Regions from separate parts of the Homo sapiens genome. Here region 1 is linked to region 2. The links come from fine-mapping of genetic effects on gene expression. A gene starts in region 2. The other region holds a variant in brackets. All regions are shown on one strand. Distances are from middle to middle.

Region 1 (11,025 bases), 25 kb before region 2:
AGCGATTCCCACTGGGCATGGGTGTGCCAGGCCCAGGAGACAGTGGCTAGGGCGGCGTTGGATGCCTGCTCCCCACATCTGCTGATCCCCAGGGACGGGCATGCGTGGCCGTCCCTCTGCCCAGCCCTGGAAACCAGCACAGCCTGGGACTGACCCTGGCAGGCCTGAGGTCTCAGCTTCCAGAGCCCGAAGTGTGGCGCCCCCCAGGGCTTCCCCTTGTGTCAGGTGGCTGACCCCGTGGGCCTCGCCTGCTCCAGTGTGCAGGCCAGGGGGCCAAGGGGTTGTCTGGGCTTCTCTGAAGCGCCTGGAGCAGGAGGGACGGGAGCTGGCGCAGGCATGCGTGTGGATGGGGGACTCTGGGCCTCTTGGGTGGGGCTGGTTTGGAGGTGGCTGGTCGGACGCCTGGCCCCGGGCCGAGGTTTCCTCTCTGCTGTGGGGAGGACGGCAGACCTGGAAACGTGCTGGCTTGGTTCGTGGTGGGCCAAGCGGCCTCCACCCCCAGCCTGTTCCCAAGTCTACGGACCCTGAACCCCTTCCCAGCAATGGCTGCACCCCACAGGGATGGCGAGACCCCCAGAGTTTGAGGTCCTAGTTGGGATAGCAGTTGGCTCAGCAGTCTCCACTCCGGCCACCCTACCTGGCTCACCCCCACACAGATGAGGAGGTCATTCCTGGCGTGGCTGCCAGGCTGGAGCCCCGGCCCTGGCTCTGCCCTCTGGGGCTGGACCCTCCGCCCATGCCGTCCACTGTGTGGTCCCTGGATGGTCCCTGTTTTTGTCCCACCAGCCAGCTGGCAGCCCTGGATCCCCCTGCCCTCCCCACTCTGGGGGTGCTATCTGGCCCGTGTTTTCCCTGCCGGGTGTGGAGGGCTGGTGGGGAATCCCTGAGGCCATGAGCTCCAGGACCTGTGACCCCCCAGCCCCCACCCCGAGTTCCTGCATGGCAGGGGGGTGGCACAGCCTGGGAGTGTCCTGGGGTTGCCAGGGGGGGTCTCTGGTGTCTCCAGCAGCCCGGGGTTCCCAGGAGTAGGGCTTCAGGCTCAGACACCCCTGGTCATGTGGTGACACTGGCTGAGTCCCCCAGGAGTCCCTCAAACATGACCGGAGATGGCAGAACCAGCGCCCACCTCACCCCTCAGGACACAAGTTGCCTCCACACACGTGGATGGCAAAGGGGCCGCGAGCCACGCCCGCCCAGGGCCGCAGCCCACCTGGTACTTGATGAGCATGTTGAAGAAGTCGTCCCCCGGCTCCTGGGGCTCGCCGTGGCCTCGGAGGTGCCCTGCATTGCTGTGGGTGATTCGCAGCCCCGGCAGGCTGCCCACGCTGGCCCGCTGGTCGTCCAGCCGGCGGCTCTGGGAGCTGGCGATGAGGTCGAAGAATTCCTCGGTCTGGGGCGAGGCCGTCATCGAGGGCTGGGCTGCGGGGGGCCAGAGGGTGAGACCTGGGACCCAGTGCGGGGTCAAGCCCGAGGCTCGGGCTGCGGCCACAGTGAGCTCTGACCTCTGAGCCCAGCCCAGCCCACTGTGCTGCTGGGGCCATGGCTCCTGGGGGAGTCTCCGCTGACCGGCCTAGGCAGCTCTCAGCTGCTCCCCCTGCTGTGGCTCCCACGCCCACCTCAGGGGCTTCCAGGGGGTGACAGGAGGAGACAGGAGGAGAACGCCAGTCCCCCACGCCCTGCCCCCTCCCTGAGACTGCCCCTGCAGCCTGAGTGTGTCCCGGAGGGCGGGCTGATGACACGCTTCCCGGGATGCTGCTCTGTGGGGGCTGCGGAGGGCGCCCTCAGTGACAGGGTGCTCTGCAGCTGGCCTGCTGGTCTGCCCCCGAAAACTCCTCACTGGAAGCAGGACGGGAGCCCTGGTCCTGGCCCCTGCAGACAAGCCCAAGGGAGGGCCCGGCTGAGGGGGGCACTCACCGATCCTGTCCTCCAGGGTGGGGGCGGCCGTGGCCTCGGCAGCCCCGGCCTGGCCATCGTCCAGGGGACAACGCTGGTCGTCCATGCGGCTGCTCTGGAACTTGGTCAACAGGTCAAAGAAGCACTCCTCGTCCGAAGACGGGGCCCTCGGGATGCTCTGGGGAGGGAGTGGGGTCACCGCAGCCAAAGCTAGCCCCGCAGACCCCCAGACGAGACCGGGGGCTGCTTGCCCAGGCCACACACACTTCTGAGACCCTGGCCAAGATCGGGACTCTAACCTGCCCCCTGTCGGCTACCCCTCCCCCAGAACGTGTCACCCACCCTCGGCACCCGGCTACCCCTCCCCCAGGACGTGTCACCCACCCTCGGCACCCGGCTACCCCTCCCCCAGGACGTGTCACCCACCCTCGGCACCCGGCTACCCCTCCCCCAGGACGTGTCACCCACCCTCGGCACCCGGCTACCCCTCCCCCAGGACGTGTCACCCACCCTCGGCACCCGGCTACCCCTCCCCCAGGACGTGTCACCCACCCTCGGCACCCGGCTACCCCTCCCCCAGGACGTGTCACCCACCCTCGGCACCCGGCTACCCCTCCCCCAGGACGTGTCACCCACCCTCGGCACCCGGCTACCCCTCCCCCAGGACGTGTCACCCACCCTCGGCACCCGGCTACCCCTCCCCCAGGACGTGTCACCCACCCTCAGCACCCGGCTACCCCTACCCCAGGACGTGTCACCACCCTCGGCACCCGGCTACCCCTCTCCCAGGATGTGTCATCCACCCTCGGCACCCGGCTACCCCTCCCCCAGGACGTGTCACTCACCCTCGGCACCCGCCGACTGCCCCGGACTTCTCCCCTCTCATGGGTGCTACCCCAGTCCAGGCCTCTGTCCGTCACCTGCCCTGGGCCAGCCTCCCCAGCCTTGGCCTGGAACACTTCCCAGACATCCCGGGAAGCCTCCCGTGCCTCCTGTCCCTGTGCCCACCACACCCTGTGTCAGCCCTGCCATGAGCTCCCTGTGTCCATGCCCTACACAGCCCTCACCGGTGTCTGCTGTGTGAATGAACTCGAAGGAATGAACCCCGCCCTGGGCCTCAGTCCACACACCCAAACAAGGGAGGCTGGAGGGCGTGGTCTCCTGTGGCCCCCCAAGGGGCCCAGCTGAAGCAGGTCCACCCCGTGACCCAGCCTCACAGGGCCTGGTCCGGGCCCCAGGGCTGAAGGGTGTTTGTGATGGTTCCAAGCCCCGTCCACCTCCCGACCGGCGCTGGCAGCCCCTGCCCGGCCCCAGCCTGTCCATCTCACGGCTGGTGGCCTCTTCCAGGTCTGCAAATGCTGGGCTCACAGCTGAACGAGTTAACAAGAGACGCAATGTTGGTGGAGATGGCACCTCCCGGGTCCCCGATGCTGCCTGGAATTCCCAATACCTGACCCCCACAGCCCAGGAGACGGACAGCTGTCTGACAGACAACTGGAATTCCCGACACCTGACCCCCACAGCCCAGGACTAGGGCTCCCGTCCTGCTTCCAGTTTTCTGCTGGACTCGGCCCAGGGCACAGGAGAGTGGGGCCTAGAGACATGTGTGACCTACCCAAGGTCATGCTGGAGCAAAAAAGAGCTGGGATTCAGACCCTTGAGCTGAGCCGAGGGCCCTGTGGACAGCCCTGTTTTAGGAGAGACCCCACCTGGCTCTGGCCCCTGGAGTCAGTCCCCAGCTGTCACGGAAGCCTGAGGTACCTCCTGTCCCTGAGGCAGACCTGAGGAGGGAGAGTTCTAGCACCCCCTTCTCCCCGCAGGGCTCTCCTCCTGCAGCCTGGCTCAGGCCTAAGGCAACACCCCCACTCCCCCGGATTCCCCAGCCAGGAGGGAGGGGAGAATTGGCCCAGTCTGTGGGGAGGGCCACATCCACTTGGGCCAGGGCTCTGGGAGCTGCAGGTCCAGGCAGAGGGTGGCACTGGGGTTGCCAGCCTGAGTGCCAGTTGGGGCCACACAGGTACCTCCCCAGGAGGATGTGGCCTCCTGGTCTAAAAGGAACTGGCTCCTGGGCTATGATGACCTAGGGCACAGCCGCGGGGGGCCTCTGCCTCTGGCCCAATCTGGACTCCCCCAGGTGACCCGGGGCCCAGGTGGACTGAGCAAGGTCCCTCCTGGGAAAGGCAGGACCCGTCAGGGGCCATGTCCCAGGCCCCATGGCAGAGCCCCTCTCAGGGTCCTATGTCGGGCAGCCCTCCCCTTCCCTGAGGCTGGGGCCAGCTGTTGAGGGGCTGATGCCTCCCTCACATGGGGGCAGGGGCCCACGACTGCAGGTGCAAAACCGTGGCTCAGTGCCTGGTACGGGGAAAGGCTCTGGATAGTTTGGGGCTCCTGGAGCCCCTCAGAAGCAGGACCCTGGGCCCCAAGGCCACCTTCCCCTGCATTTATGTCCCAGTAGAACATATCCAGTGGGACTCGGGGTTCCGCCTCCCTGCTCTAACCTCTCCCTTGCCCCAAGCCCTGGCTCCCTCCTTCCCGGAGGCCTCAGAGTCCCTCCTGCAGTCTGACTCTAGTCTCTCTTGCTTTGGCACAAGCCCAGTTTCTCCTGCGGAGGAGGGGAATGCACCCGGCCCAAGACCACCCCACCCGGCTTCACAGAGGCCCGTGTGCTCCCTCAGCCTCCACCTGTTAGGACCCCAGGGACCCCAGACTCACGCGGATCACAGGCTGTCTCCACAGCAGCAGGGAGCCACGCTGGGTGCTTGGCCACACAGAGCGCAGGCAGGACACAAGGTGCCCAGGGCCACCACCGCCCTGCCCAAAGTGCCAAGTGCTGCCTCAATGCTGGGATGCCTGAGGCTTAAATAGGACCCTGGGCAAGGGCTCGGCCCTCCTAGCGCCCGCCCCTGCTCACTTGAGTGCGTGCACACACACAGGCTCACACACACGCACGTGGGCTCGCACTCACACACAGGCGCACTCCGTAAACACTCCCCCAGCAAGTGCAGCAGTGAACCTCCCCCTCCCCGTGCCTGTGGGCGGGCACACTGGAGGGCTGTGTGGGCAGACAGCCTGCCGAAGAGCCCTTTTCCCGCTGACACCTGGGCCCCTGGGCCTCCCTCCAGAGCTGGGCCAGGTGGGGAAAGCCACCTCTTTATTCAGCCTGACTACGGAGGCAGGCGCAGAGGACCTGGGCGGGTTGCTGTCCTCATCTGGACTCCTCTGTCCGGGACGGCCCTTCCTGTCCCACAGCCCTCGGTGGCTCCCCAGTGCCCTGGCTCAAGGGCCTCCCGGCCAGCTCAACTCAAGCCTCTGGTTGCTGCCTCTCTGTCTCATTCCTGGTTGGACCTACACTGTCTCCAGCCTCTGAGGCCAACCCTGCCCTGTCCCCTACCCTCCACCCCAGAATGAGTTCTCTGGACCCCCAGACCACACCCAGCCACACCGCCTCAGATCCCAAAGCCCCGAATGTGCTGGCTGCAAGGCCCCTGCACTGTCTGGGCACAGGGTGGGGAGGGGCAGGGGCTGGTTGGTCACCAACAGCAACGGCGCAGCATCGGTGTCACCAACAGCAACGGCGCAGCATCGGTGTCACCAACAGCAACGGCGCAGCATCGGTGTCACCAACAGCAACGGCGCAGCATCGGTGTCACCAACAGCAACGGCGCAGCATCGGTGTCACCAACAGCAACGGCGCAGCATTGGTGTCACCAACAGCAACGGCGCAGCATTGGTGTCACCAACAGCAACGGCGCAGCATTGGTGTCACCAACAGCAACGGCGCAGTATTGGTGTCACCAACAGCAACGGCGCAGTATTGGTATCAGCTGCACTTTGCAGATGAGGACCCCAACTGAGAGCTGAAAGCCCTTCCCTGAGGACCCCAGCAGAGGGGGAAGGGGGCCCACCCGGCCAC[T/CCGGCCACT]GACGCCCCAGGGATGTATCCCCCACCCACCCTCGCTGCAGTCCCCATACAGGCTGCCACCAGGGTGCAGACGGTCCTTACTCGGAGGTACCCAAGGTTCTGACCTCGGTAAGGCCAGTGGGGTTCAGGTCAGCAGAAAGCCAAGAGGCCCTGCCACGTCCTCACAGACCCTGGGAACCCCGTTTGTCTGGGGCCAGGATCTTGGCTGTCCCAGGCGTCCTGCCCCGCGGTGGTTGCAGGGGCCAGGGGAGCAGGGCCCGCAGCAGGTGGGGGCTCCCTGGGGCCCTGGCCAAGGCCTCCAGAGTGCTGGGCCAGGCAGCTGGACACTTGGAACTGTGTCCCCTTGCCCTGCTGGCCCAGACCCAGGGCAGTTTGTTGGGGTGACGTGAAGCCTGGAAGCCCTCAGAGGCTGTGCTTTCTAGAAAGCCATCAGCCCCTGAGGCCGGCTGACTGGTCTGTCCCACACATGCTGCCAGCCTCCCACTCCTTCCTTGGCGGCCCAGATGTGATGGGCAGAGCCAGCTGTGGACAGGGCAGACCCAGCTGTGGACAGGGCAGGGCCAGCTGTGGACAGGGCAGGTGTCTGGGTCCCAGTCCTGCTCCTCCCTCCAGGCCCAGGGAGGCTGGGGGATCACCGGGACCCCCGGGAAGGCCTGACCAGGTGCTCCCTGGGTGCCCTTCCCTCCACACCTCTCCCATCAGTGGACGGATGGACCTAGCCCAGATGGTTGGGCAGTGCTGGGGCTGAATGAGGGGAAGGTAGGCTGTGCCCTGCTGGTGGGAAGGATGGGCTTGGGCAGCCTCGGGGGGCTGCGAATCCCAGCCCAGCACCCACACCCCTCTGCAGGTTGGTGCCCACGGAAGAACAATTTCAGACTATTTCTAGTGGTTTGGACCCAGCCGTCCTGCTCGGGGGAGCTCCAGGCTGACCTCCGAACCCGGACTCGGCCCATCGGTGCCCCTGAACACCAACCAGCTCTCCCGTGGCTGGGGTGGCCCTGGCACAGCTGACACCTGCCAGGCACAGGCCCGGCCTGTCACCTGTCCCCCCACCAACCCCGAGTCTGACCACCAGTCTGTCTGTCCCCCGTCCGTCCACCCATACACTTGGCAGTCACTGCAACTGCCCCACCCCTCCCGCCACCTCTGTGTGCCACAGCAACGCGGGGGGCTCCTGGCTAGCCCTGAGGACCCGGGTGGCGCCCAGGCTGCGCTGCTGCTGCTTGCTGGGCTGTGACCCTCTGCTCCACTCGTGACCTTGAGCCCAGGTGGGGTAGGGCAGGGTGGGGCCTCCCAGCCCCTGACCAGGAGGAACCCTGAGTGGACCTAGCCCCTTGCTGTCCCCTCACCAGGGGCTCTGCAGCCATGCACAGGCCACCCAGCTGCATCCCCTCCATGACCCCACTCACCATCGGTCCTGCCCCGGCCCCTGCACCCACAAGGAGAGGCCCCAGTACCTTGGCCCAGCTGGAGCTGCAGGTGCTTCCACACCAGGGCCTGACCATGGGTGTGGCTTAGGGGCTTCCCACCCACCCCTTGGGTGCCCCTCAGGCCCCTCTGCTCAGGGACCCCCGCCAGGTGTCAGAGATCCCAGGATTCCCCCAGGGACTGTGTTGGCCTCGTCCACCCCTCCAGGGCCCTGGTAGGATACACAGGCTTGACCTCACTGGCCAGAGCCTCCAAGAGCCACCTCAGGAAGGGGCACCCCATCAGGGGATCTGTGCAGCCCGGCTCTCACAGTGAAGGCAGCCAGTTCCTTTCAGGGACACGCTCCTGTGACTAGCGGATGGGTCTGGAGGGTCCCAACAAAGGAGGGTGGGGGCTGGAGTCAGAGAGAGAGGCCACCTGAAGGCTGGGAAGAGCCAGCCCCCAACTGGTGAACAAGATGGAAACTGAGGCCCAAAGAGAGGCGGGGCGTTCCATGCAGAAGAGCCCAGCCTAGAGTCCCCAGGAGGCTCCTCGGTGGCCGGGGCCTCTGAGGCCAGGTGCGACCACAATGCTAAACACTGAGCCCTGCCCAGAGCCCCCACCGGGGTCCCAGGACAGCACTGCACCAGGTGCACCGGGGAGGGACCCCTGCCTCCCCGGAGTGCCCGGGCCTGACCTGGCCCCGTTGGCTGGCAGTGGAGTTGGGGCGCAGTTGCCAAGCTCTCCTCCCTCTCGGCCTGGATCTGCCGTCAAAGACGCCTACCGTGCGTGGCACGTGCACCCGGACGTCGGCGCTGTCCAGCGGGGAGTGGCTGCCCTCCCGGGGCCTCCTCTCAGCGTCCGGGCCTTCCTGGTACTTCCTGCTCCTCACGGGGAGGGGTAGCGAGTCCCTGCTGGGCCCCCGCCAGTCCCCTGAATGGTGGCTGTCTCCATTCTGCTCCTGGGGAGGGGTAAGGCTGTGCGTGGCCTGGGCAATTGTGAACCAATGTCCCCATCCCAGGACCCTGAAGGGAAGGCCAGGCCGCCTCCATTTCATGGATGCACGCCGTAGGTGCCCAGTACCCAGAGAGGAGGAGAGGACTGGGGCTGTGGGCCCTTGGCTGGGGCCGGGAGAGGCAGGGTGGGGTGTTTGAGGGCCAGTGGCCCCCGCAAATGTCAGCCGGCTTATACCAGCAATGACAGTGACTGTGGGCGTCCTTGGGTCTCGTCCCCACAGCAGAACCCTGACGGCCATCCACAACTGAACACAGGCCACACCAGAGGAACCAGAGGCTCAGAGAGATCAGGCTGCTGGCCCAGGCCACACAGCACCCACTGCCGACAGGCACAGGGCCAGCCCAGGGCCCTACGCCAGGCAGCCCCCGAATCTGTCTGTGTGGGTCTGCTGAACCCCAGCCAGTGTCTGCACCTGCAGCAGCTGTGCCCACTTTGGGTCAGAGTCCGAGAGGGCAGGGAGCAGGCAGGAGTGGGTGCCCCTGTCTGTGGGCTCCCGAGGGTGTGGTGGCATAGCAGCTGGGTGGAGTATGGGGGCCTGAAATGTGTGAGGACCATGCCTCGCCTGGGGCACAGCTGGCCAGACGCTGAGGGACATGGGTGAGCAGGTGGCAGATGGGCCATGCAGGGCATCAGGCCGAGGAGGGCACATTTATCTCCCAGCAGACAGGGGCTGAGGTGGGTGGCGGTGGCTCTGCCTCATTAACCCCGCTGCCCATGCTCTGGCAGCGGCTGTGCTGACATCGGTCCCGTGTCCCTGGCTCACCCGCTCCAGGGGGAGTCTCAGCAGGTCCCAGGTCTCCGCGCTCAGCCTCTGCGTCCTCTTGGGTCTGGCCCCTGAAGACAGAGGGACCCGGTCAGCCCAGCACCACCCTGGCACCTCGCATTGGGTGGGCCAGGCCAGAGTCTCTGGGGGGCCAAGGACCAGCCCGGCCATGGCTTTCTGACAGCCAGCCCCCCTTGTGGAGGCGAGCGCCATGTCTGAGTGTCCTCTGCGTCTCCCCGACTGTACTGTCAGAGTCAAAGGGGACAGGTGTCGAGACAGAGCGCGTCCTGGCTGGGGCCAGGTGGGGTCTGGCTTTGGCTCCCTGTGCTGGAAGGGCCCGGCTCTGGACAGGCCTCTCCCCTGCCGCACACAGGGCCTCCCCCGTCAGTCCTGCTGTTCCCTCTGCCTGGATCACCCTTCCTGTGGCCCCTGGTCACCTCTGTGAGGCCACCCAATCCCCCCTCCTGAGGGTGCATCATGCTGTGCCCCGGAGGCAGGTGGGGCGGGCCTGTGGGTCCACTCCCAGCTCACTGCGGGCAGCCCAGGCCAGGGTCGGGGACGCAAAGGCCTCAGATGAATCCCCCAGACCAGCTCTGCCGTGGGACCTTCCCCGGGCTCCTGTCCATCCCTCCTGGCCCGGGGCTCACCCTACTGGCCGTGTCTCCACCCAAGGGACCCCCATCCCCTCTAGCCGCAGTGGGGTGGTGGGGCACAGCTGCCTGACCCAACACTGGCCAGCTGCAGACTCAGCGGAGCCACCAGTGCCTGTCCCGGGCCCCTGGGAAGCCCCACAGCCAGGCCCACCTTCAAGCCTCAGTCCCAACACGGCCCTGGCAGAGACGGGTGTCACTCAGCCCTGTCCCAACACAGCCCTGGCAGAGACGGGTGTCGCTCAGCCCTGCGGGGCCCGAAAGGATTTGGGAGTTTGGGAGAGTGGGCCCTACCTCAGCCCAGCCGCTCCCTGAGCACTCTCAGGAGCCTGTATCCAGGGCACGACAGACCTGGCAGATCAGAAATCAGTTGGCGAACGGAAAAAATGGGATGGAATCCGGGAAGTGGGGAATGTCCTCAACCAGGCAGGAAGCCCTGTGGGAAGGGCCCGATGCTGTGGCTGAGAGCCAGGGTCTGCGGGCGCTTCCCTGAGGAGGCGGCGGGACGGACAGGGGCACAGCCACTGTGGAAAGGGCAGCAGAACGTTCTAGGCAGAGGGGACGACGGCGGAACGAGGCTGACACTGAGGACCCTGTCTCTGCTGTCCCTACGCCTGGCACATCTCCAGGGAGACTCTCGCAGCTGGGAGGACCCTCATCCTCCTCCCTGCTCACCCACAGCTCCCACCCCCCTATGCCCACCCTTACCCAGTCTTCCTGGGAACCAAGCGTCCCTCCACCCGTGGACACACTGGACACGGGCTGTGCCCAGGAGCCCTGCGCACACCCAGTGTGAGTCCGAGGGCGGGGCCAGAACCAGCCCTGGCATCAGTGGGCACTCTGAGAATCCAGTCCTGGCACCTCCAGACCATCAGACTTGGCCCCATTACTACGCCTCGGAGCTCAGCGCCCTCCTCATCAGACTGCGCCGGCATGGATGGGCCGGGCCGGGCAGTTCCCCTCCGCACTCATCCCCCCGAGAGGCTCAGCTCCTAAAGTGAAGCTGCTTGGTGGCTGCCTGCATCAGGCAGATGTCGGGGGGCAGGCCCAGACACCCCCTTACCCTGTCCAGGCCCCACTGCATCAGGGAGCACAGCCACCAGGGTTGGGGCACTCGTCAAAGTTAGCAGCATGAATGGCCAGGCAGGGTGCCGGGGCCTCAGGTGCACCCGGACCCCACCGTTAGCCCTGGGTTCTGGGCCCTGCCGGGGAACACAACATCCACAGAGGGAGAGAGCCGGCTCAGGCGGGCAGTCACTCGGTCATTTCAGGCACTGGGCCCCACACACAGCCCCTCCCAGCCTCACCTGCACAGCTGTCACTCAGCCAACATCCCCCTGACCCCAGCCTCAGCAGGGCCCTGATTTAAATATGAGCCTGGC
Region 2 (11,025 bases):
CCAGGAGGTGGCAGGCACAGCTGGAGCCCAGGAGGGACCTGATTTCAGAGAAGTGGGGGAAGGGTTCAGCCTCGGCTGCTTGCAGGCCGGCCCCATCATTCCTGTTTGCTTTCTGTTGCTTTCATTTTTCATTTTTAAAACTTATGTTACCATTATTATTTTTATAGAGACACGGTCTTGCTCTGTTGCCCAGGCTGGAGTGCAGTGGTGCGATCTCGGCTCACTACAGCCTCCATCTCCCAGGATCAAGCCATCCTCCTACCTCAGCCTCCCAAGTATCTGGGACTTCAGGTTTGCACCATCATGCCCAGCTTTTTTTTTTTTTTTTTTTTTTTGGTAGAGATGGGGGTCTCACTATGTTGCCCAGGCTGGTCTCAAACTCCTGAGCTCAAGTGATCCTCTCACCTCAGGGCCAGGCCCTCCCACCCACTACCTGCCAGGCACCTCACAGCCACCTCACCCATCCCTCTGGGAATGGCCATCCGGATGCCACGTGGGTCACAGGAGCCCACCGTCGCCATGACAACCAGCCAAGCCCCATCCTGCAGCCAGCGCCACGCACGGGGCTTCCTGATTAAGGCCCACTTGCCCCACCCAGCCACTTTTCAAGTGGTCTCACTCGGTTTACTGCCCCCTCCTTCCAGGCAACATCGGAGGAGAGGGGCTTCAGGCCTGAGGCCTGGGTGTCTGTGGAGCCCAGACGCTGCTGCTCCGCAGATCTGATGATGGGAGCCACCTCCCGCCTCCCTTCCAGCCGGAGACGTGGCATCCGAGGCTCAAGGCGAAGGAGGCTTCTGGCCTGGGAAGGGCCTGGGCCTAAAAGTCGGGGATGGGTGCACGGATGGGCCTCTGTCATTCTGCACCTCCAATCTGGGATCCAGGCAATGCAGCCAGCCACCTGCAGCTGCACCAGGTGGGTGTCCCCTCCACTCATCCCAAGACAGCCTCCAACCACGCCCTGGCACCCACACCCACGTGACCACCCCACTCGCTGCCCGCCGCACCTCTTCCTCTGCAGGTTTCGCATCTTCTGCACGTAGAGCCACAGCTCCAGGCCCACGGGCAGCAGCAGCGGGCGGGGGCGGGGGGCGCCATACACCACCTTGCACACGGCCTTCTCCGCCAAGCTCAGGGCCAGAGGCGGGCCCTCCCCAGCAGGGGATGGCATCGCCAGGCCCCAGGCCCTCCTCCCCCAAGCCAGCCCTCGCCCCACCATGGCCACGGGTCCTGGGGGGTGGGCTGGCCTTAGGCTTCCCTGCCCTCTGACCTCCAGGATGGTGGGTTTAAAGCTCGGCGGGGGACTGCCAGTCCTCCAGCAGGTGCTCGGGGGCCTCCCCAATCCCTGACGTGGATCAAGGGATCAAGGACAGCTCAGAGGCTGGGTCAGCCTCGTCAGCAGCGGGGCGGGGAGCCCTGGGGTAATCCCGTCCAACGTGCTCCTCCAGGGACTGGGACCAGCGGCATTGCCCTCCCGTCAGTCACCCGCCAACTCCTCTGCAAACGTTTATCCAGTTCCCAGCGGGGGCTGCTCTGCCCCAGGACCGGGCTCACTCGGGAGCGCCAGGCACGTTTGTGAATGGAAAGAGGAATGGCGTCCAGAGTGTGTGAGTGCCCCCAGCCCAGCACCTCTTCCCCCAGGCCTGGCCCAGGGCTGGGCAAAGCTGGAATTCTGCGCAGTGGTGGCCCCTGGCCGCCTACCGGTTCTCCAGGCCCCTGTGCCTCCTCTGCTCCACCCGACCCCACCTGGCCCCCTCCCCAGCCTCCCTGGCACCAGCCCACGGTGCCAGCATGGGGCAGCGGGGGGGGGGGGCTCAGAGTCCTCACCATGCCAGCCCCACGTCTGCCGGGCCCTCTGTGCTCTCCCTCACCTGACTGGCCAAGGTGCGAACAGGGCCCCAGGTCTGACGGGGTCAGGGCCACGTGGGGCCTGGGGGATGCCGCTCCCCAGGTCGTGGGGCTTGGGAGGCATGGACCACGTTCCCCTAGCCTGGCTCCTTTCCTCAAACTTCCCAAGCCCCCGGCGTCCTTCTCAGCTGGGCTCCCAGCTTCTCCAGCCACCTGTGGCCCATGAGGAGGCTGGAACCTGACAGAGGCGGGGGACTGGGGGGGCAGGTCTTATCCCTGAGACGGCCACGGGGTCTGAGCAGAGGCAGGAATCCAAGGACAGGTGGGGGTCTTCAGGCCCTGGGCTCTCTCCTCCTTACCTTGAGGCCTTGTGGGCTCAGGGGTCCTACTCAGGCCAGACCATTTGTCCACCTTCAGGACAGCTTGGCCAAAGGCGGGGCAGGACCTAGAATGCCTCTCCCTTGCCCAGTCCTCGTCAACAGACTGAACCCTCAGACCCTCCGTGGTGGCTGGGGTGCCATCACCAAGGCCAGTTCCCAAGCCAGCACTGCAACTCCTACTACCTCCGGCCACCCGAAAGCCGTGTCCCTCAGTCCCAGCCCTGCTAACAGAATTGGCACCTGCCCCTCCCCAAGGCCGTCACCTACATGCTGGCCCCTGAGCAGATGCTGAAGAGACTCTGCTCACAGCTGGCTCTATCTGCCCCATCCCCCAGCCAGACACCCCCAGGGAAAACCACACCGACTCCCCTTCAGTGGCCAGGGGAGGGGAGAGAGTGAGGCGCAGGACCGGGCTGGGAGCACAGCGGGAGCTGGAATCACTGGAGAGGGGACTGAAGGTCACCCAGCTGTAGGAAGCACCTGGGGTCAGGCTTGCCAGGAATTCCTAGGGCCCGTCGCTGCCCAGCGACCCACCAGGGATGGTGCCCAGGACGGGGACAGGGGAGGGAGGAAGGATGGAGTGAAGGTAGGGGGTAGCATGGCCATGTGGCCAGAGAGGTTGCGGGGGGCCCAGTCCACACCTGAGGACGTCCTGTCTGGGAGCTGGTGACTGCTGCTTGGAGGGCATCTCTAACAGGGTCACCCCAAGGTGGGTGGCTCTGCTGCCCCTTCCCGGCCCCAGCCCCGGGGAGCACTCAGCTGGCCTTAAAGCAGGTGGGAGGCCAGGAGACGACCACCCAGGGTTTCCCCACTTTCCGGGGCCTTCTCAGCCACTGGCCTGTCCCCGCCAGGCCTCTTCACCCCAAAGCCCTGCTCTGGGCCAGGGAGCCCCTGGCAAGTGGGCCAGAATTCTGAGCATTAACTGTAGCACCCAGGGCCCTGTCCCCACCGACCCAGCACCCAGGGCCCATCCCCACTGACCCAGAACCCAAGGGCCCGTCCCCACCGACCCAGCACCCAGGGGCCCGTCCCCACCGACCCAGCACCCAGGGCCCCGTCCCCACCGACCCAGCACCCAGGGGCCCGTCCCCACCGACCCAGCACCCAGGGCCCCGTCCCCACCGACCCAGAACCCAGGGGCCCGTCCCCACCGACCCAGCACCCAGGGCCCCTCAGGGTACCCAGTGGGCTCATGGGCACATTCATGGGCCTCGCTGTCAGTGTGTTTTCCAGGCACAGTTCCCCATTTTAAAAGCTGAAACTCCTCTCTCCAGGAAGGAATGTCAGTGTGGGAAGGCAGTAGACGGGGCAGAGGAGACCTTGGGCCAACCTGGAGCCCCATCCACATTGAGGGACCCCAGTACAGCCACGTGAGGAGTGCCCACACGGATTCCGCCCACCTCCAGGGCATCCACATGCCCACCGCCCACGCCAGCAGGTGGGCCGCCCCCAGCACTCGGGTTTCAGGAGACAGGAGACTTTTCCGTGTCTTGCTCTCCAGCCCCAGCATGACAGCAAAGGGCCCTCCCGTCTGGCCCGCAGCTTCCACTGGCCCAGAACACGTCTAGGCATCCATGCTCTGAAGCCAGCTCCGACCAGGAACCGCCTGCCCAAACCGGGCTGTGGCTACACGGTGGGGTGCAGACTCCCGGGGGGACCTCGTCACAGGCCCTGCTGGAGGGCTTGGCGCGCTTCCCCCAAGTCTGGGCCTGACTCCACCCTGGAGCTCAACTGGACTCCCTGCTTAGGGGGATGCAAGGCTGGGTCTGGGGTCTCTCTGAGTGGTCCCCCTGAGCACTGCCCCTGCCAGGGGCTGGCTCCTGCCTGGCGTGTCCCCAGGGGACCCCAGGCTTCTAGCTGTAGCCTGGAGAATGCCCAACTCTATGGTCAGCTGTGCAGGCCTCACCCAAGGCTAAGGTCTTGGACACCCGTCTCTCACAGCTCCACACACACACTCTCTCACAGCTCCACACACTCACACTCAAACTCACTCCAGCCAGGGCTGCTATCCATCCCCCTCACAGCACGGCCGCCCTGGAGCACATGCGGCCCTGCACAGCCGATCAGATCAGCGGAGGAAACCCTTGAAAATCCTTTAGGGCAGGCCCCTGGCAGCAGCTGCCAGCAAAATCACCCTCACGCCCCTCCCCTGCGTGGGGCCCAGGAGCCAGGCTAGGGGCTCAGCGCTCCATCCAGGACGGCACAATGGGGCTGTGTCTGGGACCAAAGCAGAGAGCAGACCGGAGGCAGCAAGGCCTCTGTCCGCCGTGCCGCCACCAGTACCTCATTTCGGGTGCCCCAGGCAGAGGCTTGCTGCTTGGCTGGGGCCAGAGAATCCTTGGGGGCCAGGCTAGGCGCCCCCCGGGATCAGCTGCTGGGACCCCTATCAGGGAGGTCACCAGGTTTTAGGGATGTCCAGAGGACAATAGTGTCCCTCGCTCTGGGGAGCCAGGCCTGCCTCTGACGGCTGCCACCCATTCGCAAGCCCCTGCCTGGACCTCACGCTCGTGTGGCTCTGCCTGAGGCCTGGTACCACCCAGCCTTGCTTGGGGCTCCAGGCACCTGCCCGGCTGGGCCCAGGGCAGCCCCTGGGGGGACATTGGGAGTCACCAGGCAGGCATGCCACCTGGGGCAGGGCCACCCTGTCATCCCCAAAGGCGTGGGGCACAGAGCCCAGTCACTGGGATCACCCAGGAATGTGCCCGGAGAGTAGATGCCTTTTCAGGCAGGTACACACCCACCTGGCTGGCTCCCTTCCAACCCAGCTGGATCCCACTGGGCTCGTGGAGGGCTGGTGAGGGGCAGAGCCCCATCCAGAGCAGCCAGGTCTCTTTGGCCATGATGCCCCTGAGTGCCCCGGGCATGGCAGGGCCAGGCTTGGGAGGGAAGCACCCCACGGTGCCCCTGCCAGGTGCCAGGGGAGTGAGGCTGGAGAAGCTGCCCACCCCGCCTCCAGCCCCCCGGCCCCCCACCCCCTTCCCCTTGGCTTGGGGGAAAGAGGGCTTCAGGGGACGCCCACGCGGGCACACGCCGGGCTGGGCTCGGCCTGGAGGGAGGGGCGCGTCCTCAGCCACGCTGCGCGCCCGCGAGAGCTGCCTTTGTTCCCAACTGCAGCCTCCCCCGCGTCCCGACCCGGCCCGGTCCGGTCCCAGCCCCGGCCCCGGCCCCGGCCCCGGCCCGTCCTACCTGGAGTAGAGGCGCCTGGCGGCCGGGCCCGGGAGCTCGTCGGCCGCGGGCGGGGCCGGGCCCGCCATGGGTCGGGGACGCGGGAGCGGGAGCCGGGAGCGCCCCCCGCGCCGTGGCCGTCCGCCCCCTGCCCGCCCTGCTGTCCTCCCTGCTGTCCGCCCTGCTGTCCGCCTGTCCGTCCGCGCCTCGTTCGCCCGTCCTCCCCCGGGGAGGCGCCGAGGAAGTGATGTGCGCGGGGCGCCGCCGCCCCTCCCGCCGCCGTGGCCGTGATGTCACCGCCGCCCGCGCGGGGAGGGGGCGCGGACCGGGCGGCCACCGCCGCGTGCCTCCCTCTGCGGGGGGCGGGGCGGACGCGGGGGGAGGGGCGCCGTGAGGCGGGCAGTCCCCGGGGAGGGGGGAGGGGGGAGGGGGTGTGGGCCCCAGCCCACCCCACCCCAGGGAATGCAGGGGAGAGGGCCTGGGCCTGGCCTTGCTGCTGGTCCCCTGGGGACTTCTGAGGGCCCGCGGGGGTCCCTGGGTCACAGTGCAGCCACACTGGCCTCTGGGCTCCTTTCATCCACAGGCCGCCTGGTGAGCCCCGCAGCCTCACCCACGTGGGGAGGGGCTGCTGAGGCCTCCTTGCCTTTCTTGGTGGGCGCCCTACGCCTCGGGGGTCCTACCCTCCTCTTCTGTGCAGCCCCAACGTGGCTTTGCCCCCTTCTCCAAACTTCTGCCTTGGGCCATGGGGCGCAGGCCGTGGGGATGCTGTCTGCCTGCTTTAGAGAAACCTGGGGCACCGATGACAAATACAGGCTCTGCTTGGCCTGTGGGACGGTTGGTAAGCCCCCCACCTCTGAGACCCTGGGTGGCCACATTCCCCTCCCAAGCTCCCCCGGAATGGGGATGCAGCCTGCCCCTTCCTTCCTCCTGGGCACTGTGCAGGCTTAGGGAGGATGCAGGTGGCACAGTAGGCTGTGCCCACCCGGGGTCCCGGGACCCCAGCCCCTACCGCCTCCTCCTCCTCCTCTGAATTCTTGGAGCCCTGTGGGCCTATGTGGTGTGACGTGGCTTCCCCTCCACCCACCCTCAGCTCCCGATGGCTTGGGGGGTTCTCCGCAGCCAGCGAGGCCCACAGCCGGCCTCCCCGGGTTCTGTCCTGCCCCCGACAGCATCCTGGGCCTTCCGGTGGTGTCAGGAGACTCCAGGCCCTTGAAAGGCAGCTGCGACCCCGGGTATGACTCGGAGAAGTCCAGGAGCAGGAAATGGGCTGCATTCCTTCGGGGCCCCTCCGTGCACCCCAGCCCCTCCCTGGGAGAGCTGCCCTGAGGTCAGGAAAGTGCCGTCCTGGCAAGACCCTCAGCAGCTGCCGCCCACAGGACAGTCAGCGTTTTCAAGCATGGGAAGGAAAATAAACACGAGGTTAAAAAGGGGTCTGTTGGCCCCGGGCTGGTTTGTTTTTCCTGTGTAAGGGAGGCAACGGGAATGAGAACCATCTGTGCCCTGAGCGCAGCGCAAGCTGCCTGCTGGGCCCACGTGCCCTCCCCCAAAGACCACAGAAGCCAGGCAGAGCCTTGCTCCCTTCCAGCCGGGGCCGTGGCTGCTGGCCGGCAGGGACAGTGGTGTTGGCTGGGGCACCACCCTCCTTTGCCACAGCCCTGGGCCTGGCTGCGGGCAGAGAACAGGCCTTCGATTGAAGCTCCAACCTTCCGGGCCACCTCCTTTGGGCTTCGGGCACCTGAGCCAGCATCCCATTGTAAGGGCAGGGGCTGCTGGGGGCCCTGCCTGTGCCAGGCCTCAGCTCAGCCCTCTTTCCCCAGGCGCTGCTGCCATCAGGAGGCCCACAGAGGGTCCACACCAACACTGTGAGCCCCTTGTGGGTCCCCTGGGTTAGTGGTGGGAGGCTGGTGAAGAGAAGTGGGGACAAAAGACATTGCACAAATGGTGGAGGGAGGGAGAGATTTGCAGCCTCGTAGCTGTCATTGCTGGGGGAGCTTCTCCTGGTCTCCTTCCTTGATGCAGAGAGCTGGGAGCTTGTGTCCCTGGGCCGGGAGAGCCCCAACATTATATCAGAACTTGTGGGGAAACCTGCACCCCCGAGGGCTCTGGCTTTGTTAGGCCGAGCTGGGCTATGAGGCTGTGTGACCTGGCACAAGTTGCTTTCCCTCTCTGAGCCTCGGTTCTGTCACCTGAGGGCTGCCCGTCCCGCAAGGTGTGGAGGGTCACTGAGGCGTGGGGTTTCTGCGGTGCTTGTCCATGTGCCTGGCACACAGTGGGGTTTGTGCAGTGCTTGTCCATGTGCCTAGTGGCTCACAGTGGGGTTTGTGCGGTGCTTGTCCGTGTGCCTGGCACACGGTGGGGTTTGTGTGGTGCGTGTCCATGTGCCTGGCACACAGCGAGAGCTGCTGGGGTCATGTTGCTCTCACACTCGTGCCTGCCCCTGCTGGGCCCCTGCAGTGGGTCCTGGCTGGATTGGGGGTACATCCCCACCACACTGCACAGAGGGGCGTCTCCTCCTATCCAGGGACCTGATTCTCCTGTCGAGAAAACCTATGAAGGGGACCCAGAGATGGAGTGTGACAAGGCCAGGTGACAGGCCTGACATGTGGTGTCCACATCCAGAAGGGAGACCCTGGAGGGATGACCCTCCACTGCCACCCCCTCCCATCAGGCTCTGGACACCCTCGAGCCTCCCACCATCCACCTTACCAGATCCCCCCAAGAGTCCGGGAAGCTCACTCCCCCAGGGGACCAGGAGCACAGCCCCTTCCATTCCTAACGGGCCTGACTCCCAAAGGGGGGTGAGGAAAGAAAAAGCCATTTCACATCGACTTATTCTTCTGGCCCCAGGCAGCAGCACAGGGCGCAGGGTGGGCCTCTGCAGACACGATGGCTCCGTGGTCAGGGAGGGGCCACCTCCCATGTGCCTGGGGAGGGGCCCTCCCAAGCCCCTGCGTGGCAGCGCCAAGGGGTTGGAGTCAGCCCCAGCACACACAGGGCCCTGCTCACTGGTGGCCATTGTCAGCGCCACCTCCACCTTCAGGAGCCTGCCACGTGCCTGCCCTCGGTCACTTAGCCCTCCCTGGCACGCACCACTTTGTCCACACACCCTGTGTGTAAGTGGTGACAGCGGTGACAGCTCAGGCGTCACCTGATCGGGCCGACTCTAAGCCTTAGTCCTTCCTTGTCCTGTTGCGCCGGACAAGCCTCTGGGAGGCGACGGTGGGACAGCCACAGGGTTCTTGGCTCAGCCCCCAGGAGTGGGGAGCTGGGGCTCTGGACGGAGGTGGGCACTCGAGGCTGGTGTGGCCTCCTGGGTGAGGGCCAGGCTCGGGAGAGGCAGCCAGGCGGCCCCAAGCCACCCCAGGAACAAAGCACCAGCACACACCTCCACTGGTTTGCTAGGGCTGGGAGAAGTTGGAGTGTTTCTGTGGTGGCTGTGGCAGCCCACGGCCCCAAGACCCTGGCTTCCTTCTGCTCCCACCTTTTCAGGCCCCTTCCCCAACAAGCAGCTACTGTAGGACCCAGTGGGGGCTAGGGCACCAGCAGCTGCCATTACCCATGCTGGGTCCTGATGGTTCCTGACCAGCCTCAACCGTGGATTCCAAGCTGGGGAAGGAAGAAGCAGGCCGGGAGTGGGGAGGGAGACAGTGAAGGACACCCAAACACACACACACACACACACACACACACACACACACACACACACACAGAAGGAACAGTTTCAGCTTTGTTTCCCAGTAATCTCACTTAAAAAGAACACTTGGGTTTACCATGTTCACATAATCTCGTTGCTCTGAGAATGAACTTATTCTTCCTCCCAGCTTGGCCATGTGTTCCTCCCCATTGCCCAAGTCCCCTCATGACATCATCTCCCACTGCCATGTCCTTTCCTTGGGGACCTCCAAGTCCCTGGAGTTTGGGGACTGCAGGGTGGGTGGAGGGGCCCACAAGCTCTGCAGGGAGCCAGAAGGAAACGGTCTGTCCCACCCCAGGGCTGAGCACCTCGCTGGGAGATGATACCCACACCTGGAAATAGCTCAAGGGCCGCGTGAGGCCGCACGACACCCACGCCAGTATGAGACACCTGGCCATGCGGCATTCCTGGCCGACTGCTGGCAGCTGCAGACTTTGTCAGCCAGGTGATGTCCCCGGGATCTCTGGGCAGGCAGGGCACACAGGAGGCAGCTCACGCTCACTCATCATGGCGAGGCAGGTCGTGTGGAACTTCCTTGGTCTTCCTCATCTGCGCCCCACCCAGCCTGGCAGATGGTGATGCTGTGAGTGCCAGGGAAACACACACACGCACACACACACACATGCACACATGTACAGACAGGTGCACATGCCTGGGAGAGTCTGTGCTGCTCAGCTTCCGAGGGCAGCTCCCCAGGTCTCCCCCCGGGTCTGCGGTGGGAGGCGAGTCTTTTAACATCAGCTCAAACCAAACAGGATGAGGAGGGCAAATCGGCCGTCCCCAGTAAATCCTAGGGAGTCCCTCCAAGGCAAACAGAAAATGCACCCCAGCTTTCGCTTTTAGGGGTTTGAGTTGCGAGTTTCCAGTCTGCGGAGTGCGATGGCCGGGTGTAAGTCTGAAACCCTCTGGGGGAGAGAAGCCGCACAGTGCAGGGGTACACATCCCAGATCCACTCCCCAGCTGTGAGGCCCAGGCGCATTCCGCGTTCCCCGCCCATCTCCACCTCCGAGGGTTGCGGGAGGCTGAGCAGTTAGAACCGTGGCTGGCATACGGAGGGCACTCGGTAAACGTGGCTGTGCTGAGCTGTGGGCCTCGAAGGAGTCTCGCGGGGCTGCTGTACCAATGACCTTGCACTGGGTGGCCTAAAACAACATGTGTTTCCTCACAGCTCGGGGGACCAGAGCTCAGAATCTGGGGGTCACAGAGGAGGGTCCATGCTCATCCAGGTCAGCTCTAGGGGCTGCAGGCCACCCCTAATCTAGGATGGTCTTATGTTGAGGTCCTTAATTACATCCACAAAGACCCTTTCCCCAAATAAGTCCCCACGCACAGTTCCCAGGGACAGCCTCTGGGGCAGCATCACCACCCACTCAGTCCTCCATGCACCCCCTTGCGCTATCACGTAACTTGGATCAGGTCCACGCGTGTGGCTTTGCGGCTTTCCTTTGTCACAGCGTGTCACAACTGTTTTCCCGGGTGTCACTGCTGTGGTTTGAGTTTGTGTGTCCCCAGCCTTCATATGTTGGAACCTGAGACCCAAGAAGATCGTTATAAGACGTGGGGCCTTTGGAAGGTGATTAAGTCACCAGGGTCCCCATTGAAGCGCTTGGGAAGCCATCGAGGCCCCCTCCCCTTTGTCCTCTCACCTTCCGCCGGGAGAGGACACAGCAAGAGGCACCCACTGGGAGGCAGAGAGCAGCCCCCACTCCCACTGAGGCTGCTGGCACCGAGACCCTGGACTTCCAGCCTCCAGAAGCGTGAGAAATAAATGTCTATTGTGTGTCAATGACCCCGGCTCAGGTGTTTTGTTACGGCAGCAGGAATGGACTGAAATGCATCACTGAAAGGTCTTCACGGCCAGGCACAGAAGCTCACGCCTGTAATCCCAGCACTTTGGGAAGCACTCAGCGTTTGAGGCCAGTAGTTTGAGACCAGTGTGAG

The links. PIP is the estimated chance that this variant, and not a neighbour inherited with it, causes the effect.
Region 1: its variant is fine-mapped to the expression of GPSM1 in tibial nerve (GTEx, PIP above 0.99).

Annotation. Positions count from the first base shown.
Region 1 is chr9:136,346,736-136,357,760 of GRCh38, reverse strand. GPSM1 (G protein signaling modulator 1) reads right to left here. Exons shown (of 14, transcript NM_001145638.3): 10 at 8,994-9,064; 11 at 7,998-8,174; 12 at 1,915-2,071; 13 at 1,211-1,419. Among named protein-coding and RNA genes, the nearest start is that of DNLZ, 11 kb to the left of the region's middle. RefSeq lists an enhancer at 4,750-5,044. The variant T/CCGGCCACT (reference allele first, on the strand shown) is at 5,807.
Region 2 is chr9:136,322,150-136,333,174 of GRCh38, reverse strand. GPSM1 (G protein signaling modulator 1) reads right to left here and starts at 5,636. Exons shown (of 14, transcript NM_001145638.3): 1 at 5,412-5,636. The coding sequence starts at 5,479. It overlaps DKFZP434A062 (a long non-coding RNA gene), which reads left to right and starts at 5,852. Exons shown (of 1, transcript NR_026964.3): 1 at 5,852-10,873. RefSeq lists enhancers at 1-358, 4,416-4,944, 4,945-5,474, 8,004-8,632, 8,633-9,259 and a silencer at 6,508-6,802.